2 linked regions of the Homo sapiens genome follow. The protein of the gene in region 1 purifies or fractionates together with the protein of each later gene. This does not show direct contact. Each region holds a gene or a part of one and is shown in the gene's direction. Other genes may lie near its edges.

The links. Proteins that work in one complex are often made in the same cells at the same time.
Region 2: the proteins of ACKR5 (region 1) and EXOC7 purify together in Homo sapiens (co-immunoprecipitation; 2 studies listed by BioGRID and IntAct, with this or other methods). This does not show direct contact.

The regions. Positions count from the first base shown.
Region 1 is NC_000012.12:56,991,756-56,997,291, forward strand, and holds the start of ACKR5 (G-protein coupled receptor 182), read left to right. Parts: upstream 1-2,736; 5' UTR 2,737-2,893; intron 2,894-3,438; 5' UTR 3,439-3,454; coding exon 3,455-4,669; 3' UTR 4,670-5,536. UniProt on the Homo sapiens protein: Orphan receptor.
Region 2 is NC_000017.11:76,082,966-76,086,787, reverse strand, and holds part of EXOC7 (exocyst complex component 7), read left to right. Parts: intron 1-642; coding exon 643-708; intron 709-990; coding exon 991-1,111; intron 1,112-1,378; coding exon 1,379-1,474; intron 1,475-2,207; coding exon 2,208-2,271; intron 2,272-2,498; coding exon 2,499-2,540; intron 2,541-2,648; coding exon 2,649-2,782; intron 2,783-3,037; coding exon 3,038-3,140; 3' UTR 3,141-3,822. UniProt on the Homo sapiens protein: Component of the exocyst complex involved in the docking of exocytic vesicles with fusion sites on the plasma membrane.

The DNA.
Region 1 (5,536 bases):
CTCCATATGGGAAGGACAATTCAGAGACCCAGGAGACAGGAGCCACTAAAGGGCAGTCTTGTGAGGAACGGAAGTGGTCACAGATGTGGCCATCTGGAGAGGACAAAGACCAGACCAGGGCCTTCCTTGGAGGGTGCTTGATCTAGGACAGGCTTCATTTGCATGGGTCAAAAGCATGTAGTGGGAAGGGGAAATTCTCAGAAGGCTCCTTACTGAAGAAAAATATCAATGGGATAGAAACTAAGACCCTAAAGGGAGAGAATAAGAGCAAAACTAACTGAAAAATCGAAGTAAGCCACATTTCACACTGTCATGGTTCATCATGATGGTTTTTTGTTTTTGTTTTGTTTTGTTTTTTTGAGACAGAGTCTCACTCCACGGCCCAGGCTGGAGTGCAGTGGCGTGATCTCAGCTCACTGCAACCTCCGCCTCCTGGGTTCAAGAGATTCTCCTGCCTAAGCCTACTGTGTAGCTGGGATTACAGGCATGCACCACCACGCCTGGAATTTTTGCATTTTTAGTAGAGACAAGGTTTTACCATGTTGGCCAGGCTGGTCTCGAATTCCTGACCTCAGGTGATACACCTGTCTCAGCCTCCCAAAGTGCCAAGATTACAAGCATGAGCCACCTAGCCTAGCCCATTATTTTTTTTTTTTTTTTTTTTTTTTAGGAGATGGGATCTAGCTCTCTAGATCCCATCACCCAGGCTTCAGTGCAGCAGGGTGATCATGGCTCACTGCAGCCTTGAATTCCTAGTCTCAAGCGATCCTCCCACCTCGGCCTCCCAAATACAGACTGTACCACCACAACTGGCTATTTTATTTTTTGTAGAGATGGGGGTCTCATCTTGTTGCCCAGGCTGGTCTCAAACTCCTGGGCTCAAGCAGTCTTCCCACTTCGGCCTCCCAAAATGCTGGGATTACTGGTGTGAGCTACTGCACCGGCCATGATAGATTTTGTGATCTTGGAGTGATCTGATATGTAAGTGGAAGGTTTAAGAAAACTACAAAACTACAAAATGAAAAATATTCCCTTCCATGGAGATAAATGGTGCTGATGGTTGCACAGCAGTGTAAATGCACTTAGCGCCACTGAATTGTACACTTAAAAATGGTTAACGTGGTAAACCTTACATATATTTTACCATAATAAAAGAATCAGTGAGCAAACTTTTAAAAAATGTTCTCTTTGAGTGGATAAAGAAAATGTGGTGTGTGTGTGTGTATATATATATATATATATATGGGAATATTACTCAGCCATGAAAGGAAATGAAGTACGGATGCATGCTCCAAAGTGAATGAACCTTGAAAACATGCTAAGTGGAAAAAAAAAAACACAGACACTGAATGTCACATATGATATGGTTCCCTTTCTATTAAGTATCCAGAATAGGTAAATCCACAGGGACAGGAAGCAGAAGGTTGGTGGTGGGGGGAATAGGATTGACTGCTTAATGGTTATGGGGTTTTCTTTGCGGGTAATGAAGATGTTTAGCACGTAGACAGAGGTGGTGTTTGCACAATGTGCATGTCTAAATGCCATTAAATCACACATTTTAAAATGGTTAATTTTATGCTATGGGAATTTCACCTCGACTTAATATATACTCAATCCCGTCCAGCCGACACACCTTTGGCTCAGGCCTAGGCCACTCTGCCATCTGCCAAGTGTGGCTTGTGTAACAGACAACTTCTCTGGGCCTCAAAGAGGGTGAAGAAATCCATCCTCCCCACAGGGGTATCTCCAGAATCCAACGAGATGAAGTGAGGTGAAAGCGCTCTGAAGGGCAGGAAGCTCTGCTGACACAAAATGTTTACCCATAACACGTGGCTTAGAGTCCCTTACCCTCTAGCTTGGCGGGAGAGAGAAGTCTGCTCTCCCTACCCCACGCCCCATCCCCTGCTCATCCCCTGCCAGCCACCCACCACACCCTTCACGCAGAGAAGTATAGAGCCACAGGGGGAGGGCGCCATTCTCTCTCTCCCTCCCTACTCAGGAATCTCCCTGAAGCTTTGACAAAGCCCCCTTGACACCCCGCATTCAATCTTATTTTTATTTTTTTTTATTAACTCTGTCACCTAGGCTGGAGTGCAGTGACCTGATCTCAGCTCACTGCAACCTCCGCCTCCTGGGCTCAAGCGATTCTCCTGCCTCAGCCTCTCAAAATGCTGGAATTACAGGCGTGAGCCACCATGCCCAGCCATTCAATCTTTTCTTTCCCAGATTCTCACCTCCAATCACAAGATGAAGGCAGGGAGCTCACAGCCCTGTGAGGGGCTGGGGAGAATGGCAGGGGTGGGCCAGAGTTATTAAAAGCCCAACTGATGTTCAGATTTATTTTGACCCTCCCCTATACCCCCACATCCAATTTCACTCTAGTAGGAATCAAGACAGGGGAGAGAGGGATTCCAAGCTGACTTAGGGAGAGGAAAATACATACATACGTAAAGCATTTGCCACAGGCCCCACCTGAGCTAAGCACTTTCCCTCCCTCAACAGCTCCTTTAATTCTCAAAGCATCCCTTTTAGTAGATAATAGACCCCACTTTGCAGAGGAGAGCACTGAGGCTGAGGAAAGAGGTAAATTCATTCAGCGGGTGAGGGAGGAGCTGGGATTTTAATGCTGGCAGTATGACCTCCCCGCCACTGGCACACCGGGTCTTTTGCTGGGACATCCCCTGTAACCGGATTGGGGGAATGCAGGAAAAACCCCATCCCTCCCTACAGAGCCTCAGCAGTGACAGCTACTTCCCGGATGAGAAGGGCGGCCGTGAAGCCAGCAGGGAAGCCAGCCCCACAGCCAAGGGCCCCCCAGCCTCCTCACAGCTCCCCATAGCCTGGACCTGCCGGCCCTCCCTCCAGGACCGAGGGGCTCCCAAGGGAAACTCAGGTGAGTGTCGCCCTCTCCCAGGGAAGATGGGAATCAGGGCTTGGAGACAACTGGCTATCCTGCATGATCCACAGGTTTTCCTAGGGATGAATCAGATTGTGTGGTGTGCGTGTGTGTGTGTGTGTTCCACACTCACGGTCCAAATAACAAGACAGAAAAAGAGCAATAAAGATCTGTGCAAAAGGGCTGAGGAATGAAGTGCCAGGAGAGAGGTGGAGGTTGGAGACCACCTAGGAATGGTGGGTGTGGGGGGATTGAGGGGGTTGTTGAGGGGGAACTGGCTGGGGGTGGGGAGAAATGTTGGTGGACACCAACAGTCCTGGCCTCTTCCAGCTGAAACCCCTTAAGAAAGTATCTCTGCTCTTGGGTCAGAGCTAGCAAGTGAGTTGTGTATTATTTATTCACAGTTTGAAAGCTAAACTTCCCTTTCTTGCCTTAGCCCCAGAATCTTTCCCCAAAGCCCCCGACTCCCTCTGGCCTCTACCTTGAGGACACAAGGCTCTCGAGGTCTGCTTTCCCTTCCAACCCTCCCTTCATCCCAATAGGCGTGTGCTGGTCCCAATGTCAGTGAAACCCAGCTGGGGGCCTGGCCCCTCGGAGGGGGTCACCGCAGTGCCTACCAGTGACCTTGGAGAGATCCACAACTGGACCGAGCTGCTTGACCTCTTCAACCACACTTTGTCTGAGTGCCACGTGGAGCTCAGCCAGAGCACCAAGCGCGTGGTCCTCTTTGCCCTCTACCTGGCCATGTTTGTGGTTGGGCTGGTGGAGAACCTCCTGGTGATATGCGTCAACTGGCGCGGCTCAGGCCGGGCAGGGCTGATGAACCTCTACATCCTCAACATGGCCATCGCGGACCTGGGCATTGTCCTGTCTCTGCCCGTGTGGATGCTGGAGGTCACGCTGGACTACACCTGGCTCTGGGGCAGCTTCTCCTGCCGCTTCACTCACTACTTCTACTTTGTCAACATGTATAGCAGCATCTTCTTCCTGGTGTGCCTCAGTGTCGACCGCTATGTCACCCTCACCAGCGCCTCCCCCTCCTGGCAGCGTTACCAGCACCGAGTGCGGCGGGCCATGTGTGCAGGCATCTGGGTCCTCTCGGCCATCATCCCGCTGCCTGAGGTGGTCCACATCCAGCTGGTGGAGGGCCCTGAGCCCATGTGCCTCTTCATGGCACCTTTTGAAACGTACAGCACCTGGGCCCTGGCGGTGGCCCTGTCCACCACCATCCTGGGCTTCCTGCTGCCCTTCCCTCTCATCACAGTCTTCAATGTGCTGACAGCCTGCCGGCTGCGGCAGCCAGGACAACCCAAGAGCCGGCGCCACTGCCTGCTGCTGTGCGCCTACGTGGCCGTCTTTGTCATGTGCTGGCTGCCCTATCATGTGACCCTGCTGCTGCTCACACTGCATGGGACCCACATCTCCCTCCACTGCCACCTGGTCCACCTGCTCTACTTCTTCTATGATGTCATTGACTGCTTCTCCATGCTGCACTGTGTCATCAACCCCATCCTTTACAACTTTCTCAGCCCACACTTCCGGGGCCGGCTCCTGAATGCTGTAGTCCATTACCTTCCTAAGGACCAGACCAAGGCGGGCACATGCGCCTCCTCTTCCTCCTGTTCCACCCAGCATTCCATCATCATCACCAAGGGTGATAGCCAGCCTGCTGCAGCAGCCCCCCACCCTGAGCCAAGCCTGAGCTTTCAGGCACACCATTTGCTTCCAAATACTTCCCCCATCTCTCCCACTCAGCCTCTTACACCCAGCTGAGGTAGAGGCCAGACTCCTCCAACAGTGAAGGAAAAGGCACAGGTGAGAGTATAGGTGGGAGATTTGGGGGGATGTAGAGGGGAGGGTCAAAGCACTCGTGGTCAATTTTGAATCTATCTTAAAATACTGAGGTGTGGAGAGAGAGACAGGATCAGGAGCGATAGAGAGCAGGCCCTCAGTGTTGTACTATTTGTCTCGGTCCTTGTGTCTAAGGAGCAATGCAGAAAAAAAGGTGAAATAAATGGAAGAGATAGCCATGGACTCTGGATCTTTTAAAAATCTGCACTTCCAGCTGGGATTGGGAAGGGAGCTGAGGCTAAAGAGGTGCTCGGCAGAGGAAACTAGACACATTCATTTCATAAATCACTCTGGCTGGAAACAGTGAACTCTGCAGGAACCTCACAAAACTCCTTTTGCGTTTGTGAGCTTGTTGATCTTCCAGCTCACTATGCAGGTTATGGGGACAAGAGGCCAGAGGCCAAGGAACCAGGCGGCCCCAGCAGGACGTTCCCTAGCTGTGCATCCTATGCACAGCCATGATAAGTGAAGGCGGATGGGGATGGCAGGGGTGGGGGCGAAGCCAAGGTCTGAGACCTGCACCCTGCAGCTGGGTCAGCAGGATGGTATCTCCACCCGCGGCCATCCAGGAAACACAGCTCCATTTCCTTGCTGACACCCTCCCCTCCCCGTTGTCCATCCTGCTCCCTCCCCACAAGCAAGAGGAGTTGTCCCAGAGTCAGCTCCTCATAGCTGACCTCTTACCAGCTTCGGATCTAGGAAACTTCCAGACTTCTAGGGAGACACAGAGCTACCAGAAAGCCCAACCCACCCCCATCTCTTTCTCTCCAGATCATAGGAAAGTATCAA
Region 2 (3,822 bases), on another chromosome or scaffold:
ACTGACTCTCAGTACCTACTGGGGAGCCTGAGTCAGAGGGGACATGAGTTTTCTCGGGGTGCTCTCAACTCTCTCTGCTCCCTTCAAGGCCACTCTGTCTCTGAGCTTATCCGCAGCACCTGCCCAGGCTAGAGCCCTGGATACACCCCCTAGGCTCGCCCGGCCTCCCTGCCTTGCTGTCCCCACTCGGCCTTCCCCACTGTGCAGGCCGCAGCTTCGTCTGTTCAGTAGGGTCTGGTAGAGGGGATGTTCGAATGTAGGGGAGAAGGTGGAGAGGCTGTGGGGAGCCCATTCTAAGACTCTGCTGTTGACAAAAGGAAAAAGGGGGCCTTGTAGAAACCACCCAGGGTGGGTGGGGGCAGGAGGGGACAGGGCGCTGGCATCTCACTCTTTTCCTGCCAGCTTTTCTGCTGACATGGGCCAGCTCCATCCCATCATAGAGGGCAGCTCTGGGTTCCAAAAACTCCAGGGCTGGTGCTTCCTGCGGCAGGGGCCACCCTGTGGCTTAGCAGGCAGCCAGCTCTGCCCAAGGAAGCCCAGGGCCTGTCTCAGTGTCCCCTCAGACTGCTGCATGGCCTGGGGGAAGGGCCGTTGAGGGTCTTGGCTGCTGCCACTGCAATAACAGGACTTCTCCTCTCACAGAGACCAGCTCTTCGGCCACCAGCTACAGCTCTGAGTTCAGCAAGCGGCTGCTAAGCACCTATATCTGTGAGTGTTCTCCCGGGCAGACCAGCAGCCCTGCTGCCTGCATGCCCTGCCTTTCCCTTCCTTCTGTCTGTGCTCTCTGGCTATTCCCAGGGCCCTCTCCTAAGTGCCATCTGATCTTTGGAACCACAACCTGACCTCTAGTTCAGAGGCTGAGGGGAGTTGGGCTAAGGCCTCCTGAGGCAGGACGAGGAGCGATGGATAGGAGCGCGTTCGCGGGTCCTGGGGTGGGGTCGTTTGGGTCAGACTGCCATGGTGGGTGTGGCCCCATTTTTCCCTGTGCAGGTAAAGTGCTGGGCAACCTGCAGTTGAACTTGCTGAGCAAGTCCAAGGTGTACGAGGACCCAGCTCTGAGCGCCATCTTCCTGCACAACAACTACAATTACATCCTCAAGTCCCTGGAGAAGTAAGTGGCCTGCGGGAGTGAGTCTGCGGCTCTCACCTTCCCCTCGGCTGTGCAGCTGTGCCAGCCCCTGCCCCCCTGGGCTCCTTCTCTTGTGGACGAGAGGGGAGGGGGTGCTTCAGTCTCCTCCACCCCAGGACCCGGAAGGTGGGATGCCATAGAGCTTGTGGAGTTTGGGGTGCAATGGGAGGCCCTCCCGGCATTGCCGCAGCCTTTGGGCCTGAGGAGCCAATCCTGTCCTCCTCTCCTCTGTCCCCTACCCCGACCCAGGTCTGAACTGATCCAGCTGGTGGCAGTGACACAGAAGACTGCTGAGCGCTCCTACCGGGAGCACATTGAGCAGCAGATCCAGACCTACCAGCGCAGGTGAGAGGCTGGGCCCGCCCTGCTCCTGCATGGGCCCCTGTGCCACCACGCACTCTTCCTTCTCAGCACCTCAGGACACAGAGTCGGTCACGGGGAACTCCTGTCCTCTGGACCCTAATCCTCCACTTGGTTTCTAATCAAACTCACGGGGTGGAGAGAGAAGCCCCCTCCTCTACCACTACCTGCTCCTAGGGGCCCACTATGGCCACTTTAGAGGGGAGTCTGCCAAGTGTCAAGGCTAAGAATGATTGAAGAGCTGGCTCTCAGAGACGTGGGTAATGTTTACCTAGGAGAAGAGCAAGGTCGCGAGAGCACTTGAACGTGGCTGAGCCTTGCTCTGTGAGGATCCCGCTGCTTCTCTGGTCCTCTTTCTTCCTGGCTTTGTTTCTTCCCTTTGAATGTGTCTACCTCTTCCTTCTCATTTATCTGCCCTCCACTCCTTTCTTTCTCATCTGTTTCTCCATCTTAGTTTGCCACGATATTGATGTGAAGTATAGTTGACAGTATTTGTCCAATTTATTGAACACTCAAGTGTTTCCTAATGTTATCTCAAAAAGTGACCAGTTTAAAGATTTTCTCTTCCCAGGAAGAAAACCTGTTGTTTGCTTAGTTGTGACCCACATCCCTTCCTACCACCACCCACCAAGTAGATCCAGAGATTTAGCAAACGAAACAAGCCAGGCCACTGAGGCAGGCCACCCTCTGCCCTCATGCTTCTCTTTCTGTCTGGCAGCTGGTTAAAGGTGACTGATTACATCGCAGAGAAGAATCTACCTGTGTTCCAGCCGGGAGTCAAGGTGGGCTCAAGACCTGGGCTGGGAAGGGGTGTCTGGCAGACGGGATACTTTTTGTCGTGTCTCTGGGAAAAAGTGGACAAGCATCCCTCTGGGATCAGAGAGCAAAGGATGCATGTGGCCATCAGGACACAGGAGACAGGCCCAGACCAAGGGTGTTTGGGGAAGAGTGGGGGAAGGCTGCTCTGCTCTGAAGTGAGCTTTCTCTGCTATCTCTCCTGGCTTCCCAGCTCCGGGACAAGGAGCGGCAGATTATCAAGGAGCGTTTTAAGGTGAGTCGGGGTCCTCTCCCCTCCACTGCTTGCTGCTGCTGTTGAGGCAACACAGACCCAAAATGTTTGTCTCTGGGTGCCTTCCTTTTTCACCTTTTTGGTGGCCAGGGCTTCAATGATGGCCTCGAAGAACTGTGCAAAATCCAGAAGGCCTGGGCTATTCCAGACACAGAGCAGAGGGACAGGATTCGCCAGGCCCAGAAGACCATTGTCAAGGAGACCTACGGGGCCTTTCTACAGAAGTGAGGCCTCCATTCCCCTCCCAGCCTGTGCTGCCCACAGCCCCAGTGGGCCTCTTCAAGCTCCTCTTCCTCAAGGGAAAAAGGAGAAGGGTGGTGGATTTAGGCAGCAGATCCAGCGACCTGGGCTTTGGGGCGGGGCCAGACAGGGAATCGCTCAGGGCCACCCCTTCCAAGACTATCAGGAGTGCCTTAGGCTGAGGGTGGAGCTGGGGAGGGGTCGGCCCTCCCTGTCCCCTGACCACAGTGCCTCCTCAGGTTTGGCAGCGTGCCCTTCACCAAGAACCCGGAGAAGTACATCAAGTACGGGGTGGAGCAGGTGGGCGACATGATCGATCGCCTTTTCGACACCTCTGCCTGAGCCTGCTGCTAGCCCTGCCTGGTTCCACCAGACTGGCGTGTCATTGGACAGATAAACCAGTGTTAGCTTGCCTCTGGGCTGGGTGAGCTTGAAGTCCTCTGGGACAGAGACCTGTCTCCACGCCTCCGGGAGCTGTGTCCCTGAGCCCCCTAGTCCTGGCTCCTGCTTTTTCCCCACAGCCCGTGTTCCCAGCCGAACCAGCACTCTCCCGGAAGCCTGGGGTCCCTCCACACCTTGGCTTTTATGACCCTGATGGCTTCTGAAACAGGAAAAGAGAGAAGGAAGACAGAGGCCTGTGCCCACTGCTGCTCCATGTGTACCAAGAGCAGCAGGGCAGAAGGGCCCTCCCTCCAGCCTAGGTCAGAGGTGGGGACAGAGAACTCCCCTACAGCCCAGAGATGTGGCAGGGCTCAGAGAAGCAGCCAGAGCTCCTGGAGGAAAGGCAGTCGGGACTGACCCCCTCTCTTAAAACACATTCCCGCCCGCCCACAGGCCTGAGGTCTGGGACCTTTCCCTCCCAGGAGTCCCCTAGGTGGCTGGGGGAGGCAGGCTCACTGGCCATTTTCCCTAGAGTCCAGCACACTGCAGGAGGCGTTCGGAGGAGGAGTTCCGCCCCACCCTCTACAGCCTTCCTCAGGCCCCTGTCTCTGGCCCCCAGCCTCAGTGCCTCTTGGCCCAGGGC